Linked DNA regions of Homo sapiens. The protein of the gene in region 6 interacts with the protein of the main gene of each other region in a biochemical or structural test. Each region holds a gene or a part of one and is shown on either strand. Other genes may lie near its edges.

Region 1 (4,123 bases), on a different chromosome or scaffold from region 6:
CTATTCTTTGACCACTGCAAATCTAAGACAGAAGGGAGCCAGTACCCCGCTCCCAGCTATATGGACAAAGCTGATATATTTAGAGCTGTGTCTGTCAAATCTGCCCCCCTCCCCCACCAATCTGGGTCCTTGAGTACATAGTGATAAGCTTGTGTGAGGCAGGGATTGAGCCTTCTGATTAGCCTTCTGTGACCTCCCACCACCTAACAGTATTTACAGGGCATTGCCTGTTGTTGATGTTAGTATCTGATCTGAACACCTTCCAAATAACAAAAAGCCCCTGCCCCTTGAATCAGGAGGCACCTCGAGGACACATCACATTGTCACAAGAACTCTCTGCTGCTGGTGAGGTTCTAAATCAATGCACATGCTTAAACCAAAAGCACTATTTACTCCAATGGTGCCTTCAAACACTTATTCAGCTTGCCCATGAACCCTCTGATAAAAAGAATTGACTTTTATCCAACACCTATTACATGCAAACATCCTATTAGACACTGTTATACATGATCTCATTTAATCTTGTGAGTTTGGAATTATTATTATTCCCGTTTTACGAATTAAAAAAGTGACGCTCGGAGGCCCAATACTCCACAGCCAGCGAGGATTCCAGCCCAGGTTCAGAGCCTCCAGAGCCTCTTCCCGCTGCCCTGTCTCTGAAGTGCTCTGCCTTCTCTGTGCTTCCACCAGGCTCACTGCTCTCATCTGTCTCATGCTCTCCCAGCTCTCACCAGTTCCTTGCTCGTACCAGCTCCTTGACCTACACATAGCCTTTCTATTCCTCACCACCTGTTGAAATCCTCTTCTTCCTCCACCTTCCATTGTAAAGCCTTCTCCAATATCTCCACTTGGAATTCACCCTCCTTAGTGTTCACAGGAATCCCAGGCGATAAAGCCCACAATGAAGATCCTGTGGCACAAGCCTCTCTATTCCCCAACAGAACCTAAGCTCCTTGAGGGTAGGGCCTGTTGGTAATTTTCATGTTTGTGTCCTCTCGAATGAGTAGTGAGAAAGTGCTTGATGAACCAATAGAGAATGAAGAGGGAAAAGACTGGTGGCATTTGAATGCGTCAGAGAGATAAAAGGCTCTGGACAAATTAGCTTCAAGGATGGGGTCTCATTCAGGAAAGACAAACTTAGGTACCACAACTCTGCTCTGGTCACCAAGCACACCCTCACCAGCTCTCTGATTTCATAATGCTAGAAACTTAAAACCAGGATGTCGAGGAAGGAAATAAAATCATAAAATCACTTCTGTGAGAATCCTTTCGTGGTAATGCGTTTCACCCACACACTGGGGAGCCACTAATTGCAGCACAAGGGGAACAAGATATTGGGCAAAAGAATAAATTTCACTTTCTAGCATATCACAGTTAACTACCTCGTGCTTGTTTTGCTGTGACTGTGCCAGAATGCACCAGTCCTGGAAAAGATGAACTTGGCTCCTTAACCGTACCCATACTCAACACCGACCAAAGGATGCCCGAAATTGTCTTGATTGGAAATCATCTCAACCATCATCTTAGACTAGAAACAAGTAGATGCTGGCCTCTAGGTCAGGACCCCTAGAACAGTGCATTATTTTTTTTTCCCAAACAACCATTCTGAGGTTTTTACAAAAATAACCGACTCACAAACAGAAACGCTTCCTGATCTATAAGCCACTTTGAAAACAAATCATTATGTCGTTGAATATTTCATGACGGTCCAAAGCACTGAAGAAGGCGAACTGAGCGTTCACCAATCCTCCCCATGTCTATTTTGGGACTTCCAAAGCAAACTGCAAATGCCTCCTTTATTTTCTAAACGTTCATTTGCAAGTGCTAGATGGATTCTTGGTGAAATATTGCCTCCACCCAAACTGACTAAATGCAGAGATCCGGAGGTTCCGCTTCTCCAGAGTTTACAGCTGAAAGAGACAGCGAACAACTAGTGAACACGACTTCCACCCTATTTTATAGGTGGCAAAAGCAGGGGGCACTTGCCCAAGGTCACACAGACAGTGGGTGTATGGCAGAGGAGCCACCAGAAGCCAGAGTCCTGACTCCTAACCCTAGGGGCATCCCCTGCTTCCCGAGGCTGACTCAACGCCCCCACTAAAGCTCAGTCAAAGCTGCTGCAAGTTAGCGACGCGACCCTGGAGACTGACTTCTGTGGCTCATTCCTCTCCACACGCAATGAGTTCTGGAGCTGAGACACTCAGGGATGCCCCTCTACTCAAAAAATGACAACACAGGCATTGGCACTGCAGCTGATCGTCCCTGGCGAACCCCTTCTGGTTCAGGTGTGGCCATCGAGGACGGACAGAGAGGGTTGGTCTGAGGTCACTCAGAAAGTTGGCGCTGGCCGCGGCCGCACCTGAACCCAGGTCTCTCCCCCTCCCGCGTTGCCGCTGTTTCCACTCACTACACCATGCAGATCTCGGAAACTTAAGCACACATCGCTACTGTGCAAACAGTTCACGATGGCAGGTCCTGAGCTAGCCCACGGACGCGCCCCCGAGCCGGGCTTGGGGACACGAGGACCGGAGGCGGGCGCGGGTCACCCGGGACTGGTGGTGCAGGCGGAGGGCGGCGCGGAGGAAGCCGAGGCGCAGGCCCGGGGTGTGGGGACAGGCCGTCTCCCCAAAACTTTGCGGTGCCAGGACCCCTCCCTTACCTGCAGAGGAGGTGCCGCCCGCGCGGACAAGGACCTAGCGGGCTGACGCTCTCGGAGAAGGGCGGCCCCGCCCAGCGGCGGGCACGGTCGCGGCCAAGGCTCGGGAAGCAGCGCTGCTCGGGCTCGGCTCGGGCTCCGCCTCCCGCGCCGAGGCTGCAGCCGGAGGGGTTGGCCGGGCCGGGCCGCGCCCGCGCCGTCTGGCGGCGGCAGGTGCTGAGGCTGCAGCTGCGCGGCCGCCAGCTGCCGGCGCCGCGACCCCCGCCCCGGGGGAGGAGCCCCGCGCGCCGCCTCCGCTGGCTCCGAGGTCCCGGCCCGCCGCAGTGGGCGGTCCCGCTCCCACCCGGGCCCTGCCTCCGCCGCCTGCCTCAGCTCACCGCCGGGGCACGCAGCGTCCGCTGAGTACCCAGGGGGGAGACTGAGGCTGGGAGAGGAAAGGGACTCCCCAAGGTCACCCGGACCAGCGGTGGTTGGGCCAGAACTGGAACCCAGAAGAGTTCCCAAAACGACCCCCTTCTCACGCCTCCTTTTCCCCAGGAAGAGCCCCAGCTACGGGGAGCCCTGGGGGACTCGCCCCCTGACCCCCACGCCCCGCAGGTGTTCGGCTGAAGGGAGAGGGAGAGCGTGGGCCCACGGTAGGCACTGTGGACCACCTCCCCTGTCTCTGTAAACTCCTTCCGCGCTGGGAAACTGTGTTCTCCTAGCTTTCCTCGGCCCTCTCCAGCCACTCCCTCGGTCTCCTTGAGGGTTCCTCAAACCAGAAGCTCTAAAATGCCGGAGCGCCCTGGGACTCTGCACTCAGCCCTTTTCTGACCCCCTGAGCCGTCTCACCCACTCCCCTGGTTCTGGTCCTACCGCCTCTCTGAGCATGATACCCAAATGCATGTGTCTGTGCACTATTTTCCGTGCTGAACTCTACTGAACACCTACGAGGTCCATATCCTGCATTAGACACTGGAGATACAATACACCTTTAATAAAGCAGTCCCTGTCCTCATGGAATGTACAGTCTAGGACTATTAAAATACAGTCCAGTTCCTGTAACAATAACCCAATCCCACGGGGCCAAGGGCACCACTCAGGCCTGCACTGACTGAGTGAAGGCCTCCTGGAGAGGGCATGCTCTAAATGGAAACCTGAAAGGCCAGTGGAATTGGCCAGTGAAAGGGAGGAGTGTGGAGAGAGCCTTTCAGGTTGAGACCACAGGAACAAAGACCCCAAGATGAGAGAGATCCCACAGAGGGAGTGGCAGGAGTTGAGACATAAAGCAGGGGAGTCAGCAGGGGCCAATTCCTGGTCAAGGAGTTTGCACCGTGTTCCCAGTGCACTGGCAGGTTCATGGGAGGAGTTCTGAGTAGGGTTGAGGCACCATCAGACTGGGATGTTAGATCATTCTGGGGATGGTGCACAGGCAGATGTTAACAAGTGCATCCTTCATCCAAGGGCGGTGGGGGAAGACTAGCAGCA
Region 2 (3,500 bases), on a different chromosome or scaffold from region 6:
CAGCTTTCATTAAGAAGACATAATGAGGACCAATGAGGAGGGACAATAACTCTTCCCAATCTAAATCCATGACCCCTCAAAGACTATCTTGGGTACCTTCCCCTTCAGGCTTATCCCATCCTCTCCCTCCTCTTCCCCCTCAAACTGAACAATGTTCACCGAGGAACTGGATGCGCAGGGACCATCCAGGCTGAGCAATGTGCAGAAAAGCTCTACACAAGTCCCCAGCGTGGCAGGCTGGAGGGCTCAGCAGAGGGGACAGCACTGCTCGGCCATGGGGAGAAGAGGACAAAGGGTGCAGCCGCAGCCTGCAGGTATCGTGGGGTGACAGGGCAGCTGCAGAGACCTGGCAGGCCAAACTGGGAGAGGGCCTGGACCCAGTGCCCAGGACTCTGCACTTTATCCCCCAAACCACACGGCTATGGCCTTAATATGTCCCCCAAAGTTCATGCGTTGGAGACTTAATCCCTAATGCAACAGTGTTGAGAGGTGGGACCTTTGAAAGGTGATTAGGTCATGAGGGCTGTGCTCTCATGAATGGATTAATGTCTTTATCTTGGGAGGAAGTTCTTTATTGTGAGAGTGGGTTTGTTATAAAAGTGAGTTTGGCTCTCTCTTGCTCTCTTTCTCATTCTCCCTCACCTTCTCACCTCTGCCTTGGGATGACATAGCAAGAAGGCCCTTACCAGATGCTGGCACCTTGACCTTGGACTTCCCAGCCTCCAGAACTGTGAGAAACAAATCTCCATTCTTTATAATCAACCAGTCTTAGGTATTCTGTTATAGCAACAGAAAACAGACTAAGACATGTGCACAGTCACTGAGCCATTTTCAACATTTTTTCTTTTAGCCCTGTCTCTCTGGGCCTGGCGTGGGGACAGAGGCTAGAGGCTAGAGGCAGGGAGACCAGTGAAAAGGCTATTCTCTCTTCTGGGGGAAAGCAAGGGGCTAGCATCAGGAAAGTGGCACAGAGGACGTCCAAAAGTTTGCTTAACGTTCTACTTCTTTTTTTTTTTTTTGAGATGGAGTCTCGCTCTGTCGCCCAGGATGGAGTGCAGTGGCACCATCTCAGCTCACTGCAAGTTCCACCTCCTGGGTTCACACCATTCTCCTGCCTCAGCCTCCCGAGTAGCTGGGACTACAGGTGTCCCCCACCATGCCGAGCTAATTTTTCGTATTTTTAGTAGAGACGGGGTTTCACCGTGTTAGCTAGGATGGTCACGATCTCCTGACCTCGTGATCCGCCCACCTCGGCCTCTAAAAGTGCTGGGATTACAGGGGTGAGCCGCCACGCCCAGCAACGTTCTACTTCTTCAGCTAATTGCTTCCCCAAATGTTTGTCATATTCTTTAAACTGTACTCTTACATTACACATGCCTTTTTGCTTGCATGATAGTTCAATTATTTAAAAAAACATATTCCAGTAGTCCAGTTAAGAGCTTGCACACTTGAAAATGCTTAAAATGCTAAATTTTTTATGTCTATTTTACTGCAATTTTTAAAAAGAAAAAAAAGGAGAGCTTAAACTAAAACAGTAGAGAGGACAGTGGAGAAGTGGCTCAGTGAGGACCTTAGGTGGCAGAAGCAAAGGGATCTGGGCTCAGATGGGAGCAGGAAGTGAAGATGAAAGAGGAGCTATCAGTGACCCTCAGCAGTCACTGCCCGGGCTCTCATCTTGCCTTCCTGTACCTCCTCTTCCCCTCTTGTCTCTTTAGTTTAGGCCACAAACTCAAGGCCTTCCATATTGTGTATCCCCCCAGAGCTCCAAACACAGCACCTTGTTTGTAGTGGTGCCCAAAACACATCTTGTTATGAGACTGAGTGTACCAGATGGTCACGGTTACAGCAGTATGAATATTCCCAAAAGAACGAAGAAGGAGATAATTATTTCATCCAGTCCAGACACTCAGAGTGTGGGCACAATTACTGATGGAGCCACATGCTTCCAACGTGTGAATTCACTCCAAGGACACTTGACATCTAAAGAAGCAATGTTTACTCCGCCACCTGCACAGGCTTGTCCATGGCCGTGTTTCAGGAGCATCACTGGTATGCGGAGCAATTCACAGCACTCCCCCTAGAGTGGCCCACAGACAGCAAAGATGTCCCACACCAGGAAAATTGTCACTGAGATGGACCCTGCAGGGCCCGTCACCCCATTCGCAAACCCTGAAACTGGCAGGACAATTCGAAAGAGCTGTTCCCTAGAAGAGAACAAGGGGCCAGCACTCACTAAGACATCTGCAACCCAGATGTGTCAGAGGACACATCAAGAACACTGAGCTGCCTCAAAGACCACATATAACTTGTCACCAGATTTCTTATCTTCACAGAGGACAGCCAGCCACAAGAGAGAGGCTGCAGGAGTGATGTCAGGGACTTAGCAACCACAACTCTCAGACACAATCTCCAGTAACTACATTCCTCAAAACGGTCTCTCAGAAGCATGTGCTGAATGCAGCTGCTAACATGCAACCAGACGTCCATGTCTTGACGTCAGGACGGCAAAGGGCAGATGGTACATCACTGGCACATGAGCACACAGCTCCCATTCCTTGCATAGCGGTGCCATCTCTACAGCATCCCTGTTTCTCGCCAGGCTCTGACATCAAGCTGTGCACGTTGAAGGTATGCACATCCTTGTTAAGAGAACAAACTAAAGTACACAGTACTCTTGCTATCTTAACTTCAAAATCTCTGTCATTCGGGGGGATAAAATCTGTAATATGCACATATAAATATGTATACCAACACTAAATAAAATATTCTCTAGGCCAATATAGGACATAAGGACTAAAATACACATTACAGTAACATGGAACAGTCCAGATCCTATTAAAATGTTATTCAAGTTTTCAAAAATGAAAACACTGAGGACATTGTAGGAGAACTACAATAGAACCAGGAGTTTATTTTCCACTGGTGTTTCCTATTAGCTCTCCAAGCCTTCAGATGATTTCAGAAAAATTTATTCCAGATGTATAACACTACGACAACAATATAATTTGGACTATAATTACTCAATTCATAACTTACCACTGCTTCCTATACTTTTTGCATTTCTTTCTCTTGAACTATTTAGTGGGATTTCATTTTTATTTTGTAAAAATAATTGTTAGAGTCATTTTGTTTACTTAGGAGGTAACTCTTTTGTATCTATAAAATGGCTCTGATCTCACATAGAATGATACCTTTGCTAGGTATAAGATTATTGTATTGCATCCTTTTCACAATAATTTGCTAACACTGTTCCACTATCTTCTAGCTTACAGTCTCGCAGATGTGCATTTTAATACTATTCAGATTCTTTTTACCTTGGTACAAAAATCTATTCCTTCCGTCTGGAAGCTGATACAATTTCCTCTCCACTCTTAGAGTTCAGAAATTCCAGCAAACTATGTCTAGATAAGGGTCTTTTTTAATTTTATGAGGGTCTCATTAATTTTATGTGAGATTCATTTGGTGAGCCCTTTCCGAATCAAGTCCCACATCTTACTTTA
Region 3 (3,500 bases), on a different chromosome or scaffold from region 6:
TTTTAAAGTATTCGGTAGTAAGAATAAACAATAAAGAACAATTTTAGAAGTATGAATAAAGCAATTTCATAAGGAGAAATTATGAGCACAGCAATATTAATAGTAGCAAAATCTTTGTTATTAGTATCCGAACATCTACACTTACCTTAAAAAGTTAAGCACAAGATCATCCTTGTGCTTTTAAAGCTTCTCCACACTGCTGATTTCTAGCAGTAATTCTAAATTATCGTTAGGATTATTAATTTTTCTCAGTAATAAATCAAGCTTTTCTTAAATCCAGCATTCAACATAGACAAAGTTCATGATCAAGCTTCAGCACTGTAAATGAGGGAAATGTTGATCTATAAACTAATGCACCCAAAGGAAAATTTCTCTCTTTGCATGGCTAATATGGACTTGACATTTATTTTCAAGTAATTGCTTTCTTTTTCTTGCTGAATGACAGCTTTATGAGCGAAGATTTCAAAATTATAAGTTGGTACATGCCTGAAATATGGGCAAGAAATAATTACCTGATTATCCTCCCATTTTAAAAAAGCTGGATAAGTGTTCAGATATACATTACACTTACACTATCTATTAAACTATTTTTTAAATAAATACTTGTTGCATTTTAACAAATTATAAATGCCCTTTCTGTAATATACTTCGACTTAGATGAATTGTTATTCTTTATCAGGCAAAAGACATTATTATAGTAGTTAGCAGTTTTCAAATGACTTTGAACTTCATTCTCTGACCTAAATACCTACAATATTCTCCATTAAGCTTGTGTTATGTACACTGTAATGAACCCTTTAATGATAACACTTACACACTCACACACATACACAGACACACACCCAAACACACATACACGCTCACACATACCAAGGCACTGGAGGGGTTAACACATTAGCATTTTGCTGTTAAAATGTGCTTAATGTACAAACTAGGATTTTATGAATAAATCTCTTACATGTAAACCTAAATTATATGAGAGATAGAAATTTTTAAGTGTTTTTGTTCATTTCAAAGCTTTCTCATTCAAGTAGTCCAAGTTATAACAAATGCCAATGACTAATCACCACATTGTAAAGAAAACATTAAATACTAATTGTTAAACTGATGAAAACGAGAATAGTATTTTGTTACTTTTTGGCTGTTGTACTAATCATGTTAAATAAAAATCACGGCTTATGTTTTTTATCAATAGTATCAAAAATATTCATAATGGTATTGTCATAAGTTTTTAATCAAGCTACATTTTACAACGTAATTTAAAGTATATTAAATGTATGTACACAAAACATTCTTCTAATATAATTAATGGTCAGCATTTCATTATATTTATATATATATACACCCATGTATGCATATAAATACATATGTAGGTGTGTGTGTATTCTCTGAGGAGATATATATTTATACATATCTCATTGTGCACCTTTTCCTTCGTAACACACATGAGCATAGGCTAAATTTTCATAATAACACTAAAAAGATAGCTAATGGTTAATAGGTTTTTTAAATTCTAAAATGGAACGTTTACAAAATTTCACAATTTTTAAATCATTCTATTACAGGTAGGTAAACTGTTGAAACGTTTTTCTTTTGCTTATGGATAATTAGCCCATGTCATATTGCCTTCCAGATTGTGGACACATTCATGTAACCCCAATATGGGGCACACTGAGATTCAGCTCTGGTTGGAAGCAGAAGTTCCATAATGAACCACTTGCCACAGCTGAAAATTCTAAGTTCGATGTATCCCACTGCTTTTTCTCCATAAGTTCAGAAGTGGCCTACTACTGAAGGCTGCTTTTGGTGGGTTTCAATTTTACAATGACTGTTGTATTTGATCAATATAGTGTGCAATAATTCTAAAGTTCTATCCTAATTACAAATGTGTACTTAGTTTTACGGTCAAAATACATTACACTGAAACTGTTTATTGTAATTTGCCACAGTTCTTTGGGTAAGGTATGTTAGATTCAGTTTAACATTTTCCCAGGGACAATTATAAACCCTCACTTTTTCTTTTCAATTTGATGTATTTACAAATTAATCTGATGCAAAATAAATTAATGAATCATGAGTATAAAAACAACTTGATATTAATTTTTTAAATTAGTAAATCTGTCCTTTATAGAAATCACTTTGTTTCCTTCTTGAGTGATTTTTAAAAACATATTTGAAAAAAAAAATTGAATCAATTTATTAGATACTTGGTTATCTCCACAAGGACACACATAATACTTGGTTTACCTGGGAGCATGTGTATCAATAAAAATTTTTTTTTTTTTTTACATACACAGCTGACTTTTTAAAATATCTCAAAAAAGCTGTACTGAAGGACAGAGACTGTGTTCCATGTTATACAACTAGTTGAATAATACCTGGAATCTGAGTAAATTGCACACCTCTAAGGCTTTCAAATTTCCCAGCCTTTCACATTTACATTCTTAGGACAAAATACCTAAAACAACCTGCATAGTTGGCATTACTTAATCACTTTCCATGACAAGGGAGGTTAAAGAATTTTAACTTTTATCTTTAAATATCACCTTTGTTTCTCATAAAATAGTACTAAAATGAAAAAATGTCATTTAATTAACATCTATAATAGCTTTGGGACTGTTTTCGGGGGACATTTTAGTTCATGATTAACTAGTAGACTTCGGATTACAAAGAATTGTTTCTCACACCATATTTGTTTATATTATTTTCTCTACAAAAGGTTTTGGGTTCACTGAAAATTTATGAAACTTTAATTTGATAATAAATCTTATTAGGTAAAATACAAATCTCTTTCAAACCAAGGAAGAAATGAGAGGTTCATGAAATTTTCCATCACTCATAATTAAATTAATACACTGTTGGCATATTTGATTGACTTTGGCAGCTAATAAGACATTTCAATAACAGTGATCCAAGGGAGAATAGTCCATTTCACATTGTATCTATCATGGGTCAATGTAATTATCCTTTGGAAGTTCTTCGGAATATTTACAATAAGATAAAAACAATTGGAATGCCAGTGTCAAATCATGGGATGAGAACACAAGGGCAAATTTACATCAGCAAATTAAAGTGCATCCTTCTTTGATGAGATTTTTTTGCATGCTCCTTGCTGATTTATGGTTTTTAACTCTTTTATGTCCCTCATAATACAAGATAGGGCATTTGTTTTCCTATGACTCTGCCCAACATGTACTAGTCATACAAAATAATCTAAAATACAGAAGTAATCATTTAATAAGTATTTTTATTCATAGGTAGCTTACTATTTTTATGTTATTTACATACTTCTTCAAATAATTTATTCTTTTGTCTCCACTTTTGGTGAAAGCAATACACTTACTGGTACAAAGCAACTGAGTGAGAACAAGCTGTTCTGTTCATGTAGTATATTTCACAGATGTCATCCAGAATAGAAGTGTTTTTGAGGTTCCACATGACCTTCTTTTTCTGCCGAAATTTTGATTTGCCTCCACTGTCGACTTGGTGATGTTATGGTT
Region 4 (3,500 bases), on a different chromosome or scaffold from region 6:
AAACAGAAAGGGGCAAGGGAGTGGGAGCCTGGCAAAGAAGAAGAGAATGAGCATGTGTGAGAGAAACAGTTTCTGGGAGGCAAGTGTGCAAAAGGCGTGACCAAAAGTGACGGTGCAAAAGGGGCAAGAGGGAAGGCGGGGGGTGGGGGGCTAGGAGTGTCATGGTGAGAGGGGAGAGTTGGGGAGTGGAAGAATCTGGGGTTTTTAAGAATAAGAAGGGAAAGTGCTTCAACGTAAGAAAATGGAGGTAAGAGTGTGTCAGGAGGGGTGCATAAGATAGCAAGTGTGCAAGGGCTGAGCAAAGAGCAGGGCACTCCAGAGAATGAATGATGTGCATGGAGTCTGTGAGGGGGAGGGAAAATGTGTCCCAAGTGTGTCTGCAACAAGGGTCCAGAGCGAGCGGGGAGGAGGAGATGTGAAATGGAGTGTGTAAAGGAGGGCCCTGGTAGGGGAAAAGTGTGTAAGCAGCAAGAAGCAGAGAAGGAGGCATGGAGCGTGAGAAAGGAAATGCAGCGTGTGCGAGGAGAGCAGAGTGTATTTGAGCGGGCCTCGCCAGCCAGAAGCAAAGGCAGAATGTGCAAGACAGCGAGAGGGCAAATTTGTGCAAAATTGCAGCCCGGGGACGGGAGGGGAGAGAGGTGAGCAGGCGTGCAACGGAGCGTGCAAGAGGCTGAGGGGGGCAGCTGTGTGTGCTGGGGAGAGGGGAAGGGGGGAGAGCTGAGGGGCCTGGAGAGAGTGGGAAGGGTTGTTAGAGGGGTGGCAGGTGGTGGAATCCGAGGGCACCCCCTTCCCCTGCGGCCTGGGGGACAGTCCCCATCCAATCGGGCTCAGGGCTGACCCTCTATGGCTCTGTCTATCCCCTCCCCCCAGAATAGGCCCTTCCCTCCTTCTCAATTCCCCTCTGTAATTTCTCCTATCCCCCCTCCGCTCCCCGCTTCACACACACACACACACTCTTGTGTCAGCTGCCCCCCTTCAGTGAGGTGCAAATGTCCGGCCTGGATTGGGCCACCTGGTGACCTCTGGCCTTGGGAGATGAGGGCAGGGCGCAGTTTGAACAGAGTCCCTGGCCCGGGGAGAGAATGACAGTCAGGGGTCAGAGGTCAAGAGGCCAGCAGGCTCAAGAGTTCTGTGGACGGGGCTGGTCCGTCCAGGCCAGCCATCACCTCTCCAGGAAGAATTTGAGAGCCCGGTCGATGTTCATGCGGTGGCCCACCCTGGTCACACCTAGATCGACGTAGTCCTCCTTGGTCAAGGCGGGCAGGTGGGAGCCATCGATCTCGTGGTCCAGGAACTGGGCTCGGTGCTCCGCCAAACCCAGCCACTCCAGCCAATCAGCCACGTCGAACTTGGTCCAGAACCCCAGAGGTTTAGCGCCAAACGGCTTGTCCGGGGGCAGCGAGAGCAGGCGGGTCGGTGAGAGGGAGCGCGAGGCCCCTGACAAGGCTCCCCCGAGCCCCCCGGATATCCCCGGGTGTGGCGGCACAAAGACTGGGGCGAAGGGGTCAGCCGAGCCTCCTGCCCCTCCAGTTGGGGAGCCACGGATGTCAAAGAGGCCTGGGTAGAGGGGTCCGGAAGGCAGGATGGGCAGGGACGAGGGCCTGGGCGCAGGGCTGACCTTGTGCTCCGAGGCGGGCAGCAGCGAGGGGCTGGGGGCCCGGCGGAGCAGAGGGGGCCGCATCTCGAACTCCACGCCCTGGAGGTGGCGGGTGGACGTGGAGGAGGAGGAGGCTGAGGGTGAGGTGGCCCCTGGGGCCGCAGCGGCTGTAGGGGAGACCCCTGTTCCGGTGGGGAGTGGCGGCAGAGGTGGTTTGGGCCAGTTCTGAAACAGGCTGCTGACAGGCTTGGAGAGGAGTGAGGACTGGGAGTCGTCGGAGAGTCTGGAATGTGACAAGGGGGCAGTGGGGGAGGACAGGGATTTAGGGGGCAAGGGCAGGGGTGAGAAAGAGGCAGAGGTCAAGATATAGGGAGAGAGGAGGAGAGACATAAGGGTAGGGGGAGAGACGGAGGAGAGACGGGAAGAAATGGAGGGAGCAAGGGGTAAGACGGCCGGCCGTCGAGGAAAGAAATGAAGGGAGAGAAAGATGAGAGGACAGGGAGAGGGCGACAGTTAAGAGAGATGAAAGAAAAAGAGACATTAAGTGATAATAATAATAATCGTCACCGCTTACTGATGCTCACGTGTGCCAGGCATTGTTCTAAGTGCTTTACATGATTGCATCTCAGTTTAATCCCCACGACAGCCCTGATGCAGGTTACTATTATTATCAGCACAGAGAGGTTAAATAACTTGCCTAAGGACACACAGGAAGTGGCAGAGCCCGGTTATATGGCACCAAAGTCTGAGCTCTTCACCACTATTCTATACTGCCTTTCAGGTTATGGCCAGTCGTAGCAGAGTGAAAGATGGGGAGACAGTGAGAGAGAGACAAAAAGAGGGTGAGCATCCAGGGGAGAGAGATGGAAGGGACAGGGGACACAGAGAGAGAGAGATGAAGAGAGGGAGATGAAAGAGAGAAGAAACAAGGGGAGAAAAAGGTTCCCCTCATCCCTTTCGTTCCCTCCCCTCCAGCACTGTCCCACCTCAGGGCCTTTGAACTGGCTGCTCCCCCTGCCTGGCTCACTCTTGCCCTGGGCAGCTGCTCCCTCTCCACTTTCATTACTCTGCCCACCTTGCCTGTTACATGAGAGACCTTCTCCACCCATCCCATTGTGGTAGCTTTTTTTGTAGGATGGTTGCAATTATTTTGTTTACTGCCCCGCCCCCACTCCTATGTCCCTAGACTATGAGCCCTGTGGAGTTGCACAGTCTTTGCCTGTCCTGTCCAGCAGGGGATCCCATCACCCAGAAGGGCACTCTGCACACATAGGTCATGAGTCAATAATTAATGCAATTGTTGACTGAATTAAGCATCCTTCCTGTTGCTGCTACAAGCAGTGGAAAAAAAAAAAAAGAAAAGAAAAAAAAAATCCTCTTCTCTAACCAGAATACTTAAGAATAGTCAAGGAATTGCATTCAGTTCTTAAAGGCCTAATAAACCCACATTTGTTTGTTTATTTTTACAGCGTAGGAGCATTGATTCAAGTTGCTCTAATAATATACACTTCCTTTTTCTTTTCTTTCTCTCTCTCTCTCTCTTTTTTTTTTTTTTTTTAAGACAGGGTCTCACTTTGTTCCCCAGGCTGCAGTGCCTTGGTGTCATATCAGCTCACTGCAGCCTCAACCTTCCAGGCTCAAGTGATCCACCCACCTCAGCCTCCTGAGTAGCTGGGACTACAGAGGCAGGCCACTGTGCCCAGCCTCCTTTTTCTTTTCTTTCTTTTTTTTTTTTTTTCAACCTGGGAGCATAGATTTAAGTTGCCCCAAATATACACTCCCTGAACCCACATTTGAAGGTCAGACACATTTGGATAGCAGACCTTCAAACAGAATTCAAGTGAACTCTGTAGATGGACAAGGATATTTAAAACCTGCTCCCAACCCTCTGTGTATCTGAAGC
Region 5 (3,500 bases), on a different chromosome or scaffold from region 6:
CCACTACGCCTGGCTAATTTTTGAATTTTTAGTAGAGACAGGGTTTCACCATGTTGGCCAGGCTGGCCTCAAACTCCTGACCTCAGGTGATTCACCCACCTTGGCCTCCCAAAGTGCTGGGATTACAGACATAAGCCACCAAGCCCAGCCTCTGTATGCATTTTCAATATCTTTATCTAAACTAGGTCCTATCTATGTTCTTATTGTCTTACTTGATACGAATGGTCGTGTCTATAAAAATTAGTCCCTGAGTGTTCAGTAAGGAATCTGGCCTCCTACAAGACCGCTGTGTTCTTCACAAAATCATTTTTAGTATTTATGGCATTTACCAAGGAGACAGTGTATTACACATGGGAAAGTGCACCACAGAACTCAGCCACGGATGAGCAGCCCAATTTGCCCAGGATGTGGCTAACAAGAGTATCAATAATCACACAGGGTGCTAACAGCCATACAGGAATTACCTTTTTTGTCTTAGGTTTCATGGGTATATTCGGTTTTGGACTTAGCTTGGCTACCGCAAGGTGGAACTGTTCACTGCCTGGTCATCTTCATCTACCACAAGAACCATTCCCAAATGCCCTCCTATCCCCCACAAGCAGGTCTTTCTCTAGCCAGTCCTTCCACTCCTCTGCTCTTGTTCTTCACTGTCCAAGTGGGCATGGAACCTCATAACTGGACTGTAAATTCTCCCAGGTGGGGCCATGACTTTCAGTTTTTCAGGAGGGACAGGGAAGGGAGGTGCTGCTTTCTGAGGTGCTCTGAGCTGAGGCCACAAGGCAACTGGAGAGCCACCCCAACCAACCTCAGGAGAATGAGAGGCTCCAGGGTGTGGAGCCCAGGAGTGTCTTATCCCTCATGTTGAAGCCTGCACCACCCTTAGCACTTTTCAGAGCTGTGTGCTGGGTTAACACTGTTAGCAATGAAATATTGACAGTTATGGCTTATTAGGAGGCAGAATATAGTGGTTAAAGCTGGCCTGGAAGTGAGTCTGCCTGGCTTCACTTCCCAGCTCTGCAATTGTCTGACTTTGTGTTCTGTGTCCCTCTGTCATGGGTTGTGGGGAATACAGAAGAAGATAATGTAAGTGCATGCTTAGCACAGAGCAGGCACTCAAAAAATGTTAGCTGTTATTAATATATTACTATGACATAGAGATTAAGACTACAGGCTTGGAAGCCGGACTCCCCAGCCAAACTCCAGCTCTACCACTCACTGCTATATGATGCAGGCAGTGTACTTAAGGTCTCCAAGCCTCAGTTCCCTCATCTGTAAAATGGGGATCTTAATCCTACCTCACAAAATACGTGTGAAGATCACTGAATATATTATGGTCTTAGAATGGTGCCTGGCATATTAAAAGTCCTATATATGTTTTAACTATGGTTATTACTGCAAGCAGATCAAATAAATATTTCTCACACAAATCTTTCAAATGTAAATGGATGCTGCTGTGATTAACAGAAGACAAATACATCTGAAACATTCCTGAAATCACAGTGTTTTCTAAATCAACTTATGATTGAAGGTACAACTAATGCCATGAGAGACTAGGACACTCTAACAATAAAAAAGTGGGCTCTTGGCTCATGCCTGTAATCCCAGCACTTTGGGAGGCTAAGGTGGGCAGGTCACTTGAGGCCAGGAGTTTGAGACAAGCCTGGCCAACATGGCGAAACCCCATCTCTACTAAAAATACAAAAATTAGCCACATGTGGTGGCTCATGCCTGTGATCCCAGCTACTCAGGAGGCTGAGGCACAAGAATCGCTTGAACCCAGGGGGTGGAGGTTGCAGTGAGCCGAGATCATGCCACTGAACTCTAGCCTGGGCAACAGAGCGACACCCTGTCTCAAAAAAAAAAAAGTAGCTCTCATATTCAAAGGGTATGAAAACCTCTGGGTTTGCTTGCTTATTATTTTATTTTATCTTTACAGGGAATATTATTTTATTTTATCTTTACAGGGAACTGAACCCAGGAGAAGACATATGATTTTCCCAGGATCACCCACCAAGGTGCTCCGGACTAGAGCTCAGCTTGAGTCCCTGCCCTGGACATTGTACCAGGCCCTCAATTAAAGTCCTGGAAGCTTCCCCCAGGCTTTCCTCTGAGACCTACTGGAAGCGAAATAATCCTTTAAAAGTTAGTTTTCTGACACAACCACTTTTGCTCCAGTCTCTATCCTATCCTTTACAAGGAAGTTGAGTAGTAAGTCAGCCAGTGAGAAATTATGTAAATTCAACCAAATTACCTAACCTGTGAGCACCTGAGCTTTTCTGTTTGCAAAAGGCAAAGAATGCTAGCTTTCCTCTCCTCTGTGGAGCAAGAGTTAAGGCATGGCCTAAGAATGTGCCAGTCCTATCCTGATCCCAGTACACAGCAATTCCTTGGTGCTTTTCCCAGTCCTGGTCAGCCTAGGAGAATATGACCCAGACGCTTAGATGACACTCTCCTCTCAGTCATCTACCTGGCTGCAATACCCTAAAGCCACTGTTCTTCCCTCTTGCCTCCTCAAACAAACCAGCAAGGTTGGCATCAGGAGTTTAGGGAGGGGAGACTATCTGGTCAGAGGGTGATAATGTAGTATGGGCTCAGGCATTCACTTACATGTCATTCTCTTTGGTTTGTCCTCTTCCCCCTCTCTCCTTAAGTCAGCTGTGAGCAGCTGAAGTCGCTAATATTTCCCAGGTATCAATTTCACAGACCAAGGGCATGCAGCACAATGGCCATTAAAACATAATGACCCTTTTTGGACATTTCCTGCTTTTCATAATCTGACAGACAAACCCTTCTCTTTCAATCTTTACGACATGATGTAAAATCTATCTGAATCCGGAAATACCACTCTTAAAAATCAGAAATGACCCTCTGGCCACAGTAACCATTATTAAGCATCCCTTGGGATACTTGAGAAAAAGCATAAGCATTTGCCACAGAACCGCTCAGCTCTTAGCAAAGGGTTCCCCAGGACTCCAGAGACAAATGAGCAACTCCTCCAACTAAGGGCATCCCTTGATCTTGGCCTCACCCTTTCCTGTCTTTTATCAGTTGCTGGGAGAGAAAAACAGTCAACATAAACTGAGTTGCAATGTTGGCCTGGGTATTTCTCTGAAGGCTTCCCTTGAAAGTAACTAGAGGGAAGGAGAAATTAACATGGAAAATTTTTTTAATTAAAAAAATACCTCAAGGAAATGGGCAAGTGTTGATTTGAAGCAGGAACTGACAGAAAAAAATATCAGAGAACAGTGGCAAATGTGTGGCTGGATCATCAGGGAACACAAGGCAAGAGCACTAAACGAGAATGTGGGTAAAAGAAGCTAGCCTATGTCCACTTAAAGTTGGAAACCTGGGTTGAAATTTTAAGTTGATAACGATACTAGATGAAAACATTAAGGAGCTAAAGAAGCTGTTCACACACACACACACGTGTTCTGTATGAGTCTGTTCAGAAACAGGCAAAATTAAGCTATGGTATTTGGGATACCTAATTTAGGTGGTAA
Region 6 (3,853 bases):
ACCACACCATGCAGCCCTGAGGAGCAGGGACTGTGTACGCATTATCTGTTTCTCTGGGAGGCCTGCCAGTGTGCCTGGCAGTCAACAAATGTTTATGGAGGGAAAGCCAATTCCAAGTCAAAGGGTGGCGTGGGCTGGGAAAAGCTCTACTGGGTGCTTTTCACTGTAAATGATTACCACTGTGGACAACTCAGTCTTGATCTTGAATAGGCTCTGGAGATCATCAGGGGTTGTCAAGGCCTGAACGTGATGGGCTGTGATCTTGTCGAAGTTTCACCACCGTATGATCTTTCTGGTGAGTAAGCAAAGAGACTGAGATCCATGGGCAGCCGGTAGCTTAAATTACACGAAGCTAGTTAATAAGTAGAAAATGGGGCCAGGCATGGTGGCCCAAGCCTGTAATCCCAGCACTTTGGGAGGCCAAGGTGGGCAGCTCACCTGAGGTCAGGAGTTCAAGACCAATTTGGCCAACATGGCGAAACCCCATCTCTCTAAAGATATAAAAATTAGCCAGGTGTGGTGGCACACACCTGTAATCCCAGGTACTCAGGAGGCTAAGGCAGGAGAATCGCTTAGAACCTAGGAGGCGGAGGTTGCAGTGAGCTGAGATTGCGCCACTGCACTCCAGCCTGGGTGACAGAGCGAGACTCCATCTCAAAAAAAAAAAAAAAAAGATGAGTCCCTTATATGACTTGGGGAAGCAGCTGAGCATGTCCAATGGTGAAGAAAACACACCTATTACTGCACACCTTACAAACATGAGCTCATTAACCCTAACAAAACCCCCAGGAGGTAGTTAAGTATCATTAGCTTGCCCACCAATCAGCAGAAGAGAAAGAAACCAGCCTGTAGTCTAGTGACAGGGTGGCCCAATCCCCGTCTCCTTTGATGTTTCATTGCAAAGTGAATTCTAAAGCATAAATAATATATGTTAATATTTATCAAATAGGAACTTAGCTGGTTAAGATCTTCAAAGCAGACGCCATCCCAATAATTTTAATGTAGACAAACTTATGGAATTAGGCCTATCGACCTCAGAGGATAGATAATACAGTACACATCATTATTATAGGTTCTCCTTTGGGAAAAATCTGTTCTCAGAGTAAACAAAGAACTTTCTGAATTTTAAAATATGATTCCCAAATGATGCTTGATGGAGGCAGAGAGCCTGGGCAAGCGTGTTCACAGCTGGCGGGCACCCTAGAGGGGTGCACAAGACAGGGCTCTGGAAAAGGAGGCACAAGGGGAAGAGAAAGCTGAGGAGTCCCAAGGCTTGGCTCAGCGGGTCGTCTGCAGGGTATTCATGTGAGGTTTTACTTTTTCTTAGGGAACACAGCCCTGCTGGCGGCTAACCTGCTGTTTGAGATGCTATGTGCTCTCCCCAAAGTGACAACCGTCTGAGTCTTGTGCTCTTCAAGACAAAACAGATTGCGTCGCTGACAAGTTCTCAAGAAGAACTTATGAGTAAGCAGTCTGAGAACTAAAGAGTTTATGCCAAGAAAACTTTCTGCTGAAAGTGTCATTGCTGGCTGTGAAGTCGGGATAATCAGTAGAATTCTCACCCAAACAGCAACATTTCTAAGGAACTTGGATTAATTGGGGGAAAAAAAAAGGAGTACTTGTACTGCTTTGATTTTTTTTCCTTTGATGAAAGATGGAGGATAAAGGGGAAGTGAGGAGAATTTCTTTCAAGATTATCTAAACATTAGAAACATGACATTTAAAAAAACTATGAAATAATACTGTATAAGCATTCCATATTTCTATATCTTCCTTTTAAACATTTTTTTTTTTGAGATAGAGTTTTGCTTGTCACCCAGGCTGGAGTGCAATGGCATGATCTCGGTTCATTGCAACCTCCGCCTCCCGAGTTCAATCGATTCTCCTGCCTCAGCCTCCTGAGTACCTGGGATTACAGGTGCCTGCCACCACGCCTGGCTAATTTTTGTATTTTTAGTAGAGACAGGGTTTCACCACATTGGCCAGGCTGGTCTTGAACTCCTGACCTAAGGTGATCCGCCCGCCTCAGCCTCCTTAAAGTGCTGGGATTACAGGCATGAGCCACCGCACCCAGCCGCTTTTTAAAATTTTGATGATCTGCTTCCTAGAGTATTGAGTATCTTCCTTTAAACTACAGCTCCTCCTCGGACGCTGCAGTGAGCTGAGATCGCACCACTGCACTCCAGCCTGGGTGCCAGAGCAAGACTCCATCTCAAAAAAAAAAAAAAAAAATACAGCTTCTCCTATGAGGTGCTTAGGGCTGCATCTTGGTTTTAGGACCACTGTGAACGTAAGTAAAAAGTATAAAGTAACACGGAGAGCCTAATGAAGAAACTTCTTGCTCAGAGGCCTAGAAGGGTACACAAAATGTCTTCTAAACTAGAAAACCTAAGGCTGGACACGGTGGCTCATGCCTGTAATCCCAGCACTTTGGGGGGCGGAGGTGGGCAGATCACTTGAGGTCAGGAGTTCGAGACCAGCCTGGCCAACATGGTGAAAACCCATCTCTACTGAAAATACAGAAGTTAGCTGGGCGTGGTGGCGCGTGCCTATAGTCCCAGCTACTCAGGAAGCTGAGGCAGGGGCATTGCTTGAACCCGGGAGGTGGAGGTTGCAGTGAGCTGAGGTCATGCCACTACACTCCAGCCTGGGTGACAGAGTGAGACTCCGTCTCCAAAAAAAAAAAAAAAAAAAAAAAAGCAGGCCGGACCCAGTGGCTCACGCCTGTAATCCCAGGCCTAGGCGGGAGGATCACCTGAGGTCAGGAGTTCAAGACCAGCCTGGCCAACATGGTGAAACCCCGTCTCTACTAAAAAACAAAACAAAACAAAACAAAACAAAAAAACCCCAGAAAACAAAACAAAACTGGAAAATGTCAGCTGGGCTTTTTTTTTTTTTTTTTTTTCTGAGATGGAGTCTCGCTCTGTCCCCCAGGCTGGAGTGCAGTGGCCCGATCTTAGCTCACTGCAATCTCCGCCTCCTGGGTTCAAGCAATTCTGCTGCCTCAGCCTCCTGAGTAGCTAGAATTACAGTCATGCGTCACCACGCCCGGCTAATTTTTGTATTTTTAGTAGAGACGGGGTTTCACCATGTTGGCCAGGCTGGCAGCTGGGCTCTTAATGTTACTTATTGTAACTCACTTCCTGTAAGACTCAATCTACTCTTCAAGTTGATGTACCCTCTATGACTGTAATTCCTGAAATCTGCAGTTATGCTGTGGTGATCTTAAGCGTGTCTTGAGTTCCATGCAAATTCAATTCTGTTGATAATGTGTCCATAATCAAATCATCATCTTGCAATGCAAGGGCTACCCCATAATTATCAGACATTAAAATAGTTTATTTCTTTTTCCATTCTGTAATCTTAAAATAACATCAGCTTCAGTGCCTGTTCACAATACAAAAAAAGTCAAAAAACAAAAACAACACCCAAAACATAAAAAAGAAACAATTTGCCAAATAAGTTATTTGTTCCTAAGAGTATCAAAAGTGCAAAATATTCACCTTCTTTTCAGATCTCTCCCAAGCATAATTATCCTCCTTGACAAACTGAACAGACAGATTCAGCAGCTGCCACACTGCACTTGTTTTTAGGGGACAATGTCAGACAGGTGGATGTGAACTACAGTTCCTCTGTAAAGATGTTTGGCATCAGCTTTTAAAGAATTCTAGTTAACAAAACAGGTCTGAGTATGTGCTTCCAATCTCTATTCCCAAACAAAGGAAATCACTAAAAAAACAGATCACACTTCTTTTTATAACAGAAAAATATTTATGTAATGATGGCAGCTGCAAATTGATTGGGATGTTAATAAATAAAAAGGAACAAGTATCAACAAGCTGCAAATGAGGAA
Region 7 (3,500 bases), about 30 Mb from region 6:
CAGAAGAATTGTTTGAATCCGGAAGGCAGAGGTTGCAGTGAGCCAAGATCGTGCCACTGCACTCCAGACTGGGGGACAAGAGCAAAACTTCGTCTCAAAAAAAAAAAAAAAAAAATTGGCCAGGCGTGGTGGCGGCTGCCTGTAATCCTAGTTACTTGGGAGGCTGAGGCAGGAGAATTGCTTGAACCCAGGAGGCAGAGGTTCCAGTGAGCTGAGATCGCACCACTGCACTCCAGCCTGAGCAACAGAGCAAGACTCGGTCTCAAAAAAAAAATGATAATAATAATAATAATCTTATGGGACCCCCATCTTGTATGTCATCCATCATTGACTAAAACATAATTATGCGGAACATGACTGTATGCAGAGAAAAAGAAAATGAATAGTTCCATCTATACTGAACATGTATAGATATTTTTTTCTTGTCACTATTCCCTAAGTAATAGAGTGTAACAGTTATTTACATAGCATTTACATTGTATTATATATTATAAATAATCTGGAGATGATTTAAAGTACATGGGAGGATATACATAGGTTACATGCAAATACTATGCCATTTTATAGATAGAACTTGAGCATACCAGAGTTTGGTATCTGCAGGGGGTCATGTACTCAATCCCCGAGAGATATTGAGGGACAACTGTAGCAGCAAACAGACCTGAGGGGCTGAATGTGGAATACAGGTAAGGTTAAGAAAAAAATCAAACACAACCTCCAGTTTTGTTCTGGTAAATGAGTAGTGCCATCTATTGACATGAGGCAGACTGGGGAAGAAGCAGACTAGAAAGTGAAAATCAAGACTTCATTTTTGGACATGTTAAGTTTGAGAGGTCTCTGAGCTATCCAAATGAAAATGTTACACGGACTATTAAAAATAGGAGTAGGGCCAGGCACAGTGGCCGATGCTTGTAATCCCAGCACTTTGGGAGGCCGAGGTGGACGGATCACCTGAGGTCGAGAGTTTGAGACAGCCTGACCAACATGGAGAAACCTAGTCTCTACTAAAAATACAAAATTACCCAGGCGTGGTGGCACATGCCTGTAATCCCAGCTACTGGGAGGCTGAGGCAGGAGAATCACTTGAACCTGGGAGGCGGAGGTTGCAGTGAGCCAAGATGGTACCACTGTACTCCAGCCCGGGCAACAGTGCGAGACTCCGTCTAAAAAAAAAAAAAAAAAAAAAGGCTTACAGATTGATCTTTAGGCCAAGAGACATCCAGAACAATGATGGGAAAACTCTGTAATCACATGTGTCCTACCCTCATCAGGGAACATTTGCCAACCTGCTTCAAGCCACCATAGACTCTCTGCTCCCAGTACTTTTGATGAAACTAAATATTTCAAAGTTAACACCTTTTTAGGAGCTAGCCCTTACCCATACCCTGGATAAGAGGGAAAGGAGGTCAAATAAACTTTTGCACTGAAAACTCGGAAGATTTCTCAAATGCTCATGTCTCAAACAGCATGTCCTGCATCCTATCCTCCACACAGTTGCCAGAGTAATCCAACTAAAACACAAATAAGAATATACTGCTCCTGTGCCGCGCGCGGTGGCTCACACCTGTAATTCCAGCATTTTGGGAGGCCAAGGCGGGCAGATCACCTGAGGTCAGGAGGTCCAGACCAGCCTGGCCAACATGGTGAAACCCCATCTTTACTAAAAATACAAAAATTAGGCCAGGCGCAGTGGCTCACGCCTGTAATCCTAGCACTTTGGGAGGCCGAGACAGGCGGATCACGAGGTCAGGAGATCAAGACCATCCTGGCTAACACAGTGAAACCCCGTCTCTACTAAAAATACAAAAAAATTAGCTGGGCGTGGTGGCGGGCGCCTGTAGTCCCAGCTATTCGGGAGGCTGAGGCAGGAGAACGGCGGGAACCCGGGAGGCAGAGCTTGCAGTGAGCCAAGATCAGGCCACTGCACTCCAGCCTGGGTGACAAAGTGAGACTCTGTGTCAAAAAAAAAAAAAAGCCGGGTGCGGTGGCTCACGCCTATAATCCCAGCACTTTGGGAGGCCAAGGAGGGCAGATCACGAGGTCAGGAGATCGAGACCATCCTGACTAACATAGTGAAACCCCGTCTCTACTAAAAATACAAAAAAATTAGCCGAGCGTGGTGGTGGGCGCCTGTAGTCCCAGCTACTCCAGAGGCTGAGGCAAGAGAATGGCGCGAACCCGGGAGGCGGAGCTTGCAGTGAGCCGAGATCGCGCCACTGCACTCGAGTCTGGGCGACAGAGCGTGACTCCGTCTCAAAAAAAAAAAAAAAAAATACAAAAATACAAAAATTAGCTGGGCGTGGTGGCATCCCAGGTACTCGAGAGGCTGAGGCAGGAGAATTGCTTGAACCCCACAGGGGGAGGCTGCAGTGAGCCGAGATCGTGCCATCGCACTCCAGCCTGGGAGACAAGAGCGAGACTTCGTCTCAAAAAAAAAAAAAAAAAGAAATATACTGCTCTCGGCTAGGCACGGTGGCCCACGCCTGTAATCCCAACACTTTGAGAGGCCGAGCCAGGTGGATCACTTGAGGTCGGGAGTTTGAGACCAGCCTGACCAACATGGAAAAACTCCGTCTCTACTAAAATACAAAATTAGCCAGGCATGGTGGCCAATGCCTGTAATCCCAGCTACTTGGGAGGCTGAGGCAGGAGAATAGCTTGAACCTGGGAGGTGGAAGTTGCGGTGAGCTGAGATCGTGCCACTGCACTCCAGCCTGGGCCACAGAGCAAGACTGCCTCAAAAAAAAAAAAAAAGAATATACTGCTCCCCTACTTATTATCCTTTTTTTTTTTTTTTTTTTGAGATGGAGTCTCGCTCTGTCGCCCAGGATGGAGTACCGTGGCGCGATCTTGGCTCACCGCAACCTCCACCTCCCGGGTTCAAGCAATTCTCCTGCCTCAGCCTCCCAAGTAGCTGGGATTACAGGCGCCCACCAAGACGCCTGGCTATTTTTGTATTTTTAGTAGAGATGGGGTTTCATCATGTTGGCCAGGCTGGTCTCAAACTCCTAACCTTAGGTGATCCACCCACCTTGGTCTCCCAAAGTGCTGGGATTACAGGCGTGAGCCACCACACCCAGCCAATTATCCTTTTATATCACACTAAAGACCCTCAACAATCAAGGCTTCTTTAATCTCTAACCTAGCATTTACACCTTCAACGTAAAGCTCTGGGTCTGGCAATAACAAACCGATTATAGTTCCCTATATATATTACGCAGCTTCCCTTCTGTGTGCTTTCTGCCCTATGCTTTTCCCAATGTACTAACCCTGTAATGCAGAGGAAAGAGGTTCTGATTTCCATTAAAATAATTTTTTAAAATTTCTGTCACACTGAGGGTATTTTAGGAACTAAAGTTGAACTCATCTTCTGCCATCCTCAAAAATATTCTATTTCCTTTGTCTACTCCTATCATATAACCATTATTACTCAAATTACCAAAATTCAAAATATTTGAATCATTCTCCATTCATTCATTCAATAAATAATGACTGAGCAC

What was found.
Region 1: the proteins of AGMAT (region 6) and FRMPD1 interact in a test that uses a peptide from one of them, tested with the Homo sapiens proteins (one large-scale study listed by IntAct).
Region 2: the proteins of AGMAT (region 6) and APBA2 interact in a test that uses a peptide from one of them, tested with the Homo sapiens proteins (one large-scale study listed by IntAct).
Region 3: the proteins of AGMAT (region 6) and SNTG1 interact in a test that uses a peptide from one of them, tested with the Homo sapiens proteins (one large-scale study listed by IntAct).
Region 4: the proteins of AGMAT (region 6) and SHANK1 interact in a test that uses a peptide from one of them, tested with the Homo sapiens proteins (one large-scale study listed by IntAct).
Region 5: the proteins of AGMAT (region 6) and PDLIM1 interact in a test that uses a peptide from one of them, tested with the Homo sapiens proteins (one large-scale study listed by IntAct).
Region 7: the proteins of AGMAT (region 6) and MAST2 interact in a test that uses a peptide from one of them, tested with the Homo sapiens proteins (one large-scale study listed by IntAct).

Annotation. Positions count from the first base shown.
Region 1 is NC_000009.12:37,649,631-37,653,753, reverse strand, and holds the start of FRMPD1 (FERM and PDZ domain-containing protein 1), read right to left. Parts: upstream 2,801-4,123; 5' UTR 2,660-2,800; intron 1-2,659. UniProt on the Homo sapiens protein: Stabilizes membrane-bound GPSM1, and thereby promotes its interaction with GNAI1.
Region 2 is NC_000015.10:29,049,974-29,053,473, reverse strand, and holds part of APBA2 (amyloid-beta A4 precursor protein-binding family A member 2), read right to left. Parts: intron 1-3,500. UniProt on the Homo sapiens protein: Putative function in synaptic vesicle exocytosis by binding to STXBP1, an essential component of the synaptic vesicle exocytotic machinery. May modulate processing of the amyloid-beta precursor protein (APP) and hence formation of APP-beta.
Region 3 is NC_000008.11:50,792,907-50,796,406, reverse strand, and holds part of SNTG1 (gamma-1-syntrophin), read right to left. Parts: 3' UTR 1-3,500. UniProt on the Homo sapiens protein: Adapter protein that binds to and probably organizes the subcellular localization of a variety of proteins. May link various receptors to the actin cytoskeleton and the dystrophin glycoprotein complex.
Region 4 is NC_000019.10:50,660,803-50,664,302, forward strand, and holds part of SHANK1 (SH3 and multiple ankyrin repeat domains protein 1), read right to left. Parts: intron 1,881-3,500; coding exon 1,163-1,880; 3' UTR 1-1,162. UniProt on the Homo sapiens protein: Seems to be an adapter protein in the postsynaptic density (PSD) of excitatory synapses that interconnects receptors of the postsynaptic membrane including NMDA-type and metabotropic glutamate receptors via complexes with GKAP/PSD-95 and Homer, respectively, and the actin-based cytoskeleton.
Region 5 is NC_000010.11:95,284,504-95,288,003, forward strand, and holds part of PDLIM1 (PDZ and LIM domain protein 1), read right to left. Parts: intron 1-3,500. UniProt on the Homo sapiens protein: Cytoskeletal protein that may act as an adapter that brings other proteins (like kinases) to the cytoskeleton. Involved in assembly, disassembly and directioning of stress fibers in fibroblasts.
Region 6 is NC_000001.11:15,571,199-15,575,051, reverse strand, and holds the end of AGMAT (guanidino acid hydrolase, mitochondrial precursor), read left to right. Parts: intron 1-210; coding exon 211-295; intron 296-1,327; coding exon 1,328-1,401; 3' UTR 1,402-3,353; downstream 3,354-3,853. UniProt on the Homo sapiens protein: Hydrolyzes linear guanidino acids to form urea and the corresponding amines. Displays specificity for substrates having a negatively charged head group and short chains including taurocyamine, guanidino propanoic and butanoic acids.
Region 7 is NC_000001.11:45,810,112-45,813,611, reverse strand, and holds part of MAST2 (microtubule-associated serine/threonine-protein kinase 2), read right to left. Parts: intron 1,164-3,500; exon of another isoform or gene 1,041-1,163; coding exon of another isoform or gene 1,023-1,040; intron 665-1,022; exon of another isoform or gene 612-664; coding exon of another isoform or gene 585-611; intron 1-584. UniProt on the Homo sapiens protein: Appears to link the dystrophin/utrophin network with microtubule filaments via the syntrophins. Phosphorylation of DMD or UTRN may modulate their affinities for associated proteins. Functions in a multi-protein complex in spermatid maturation.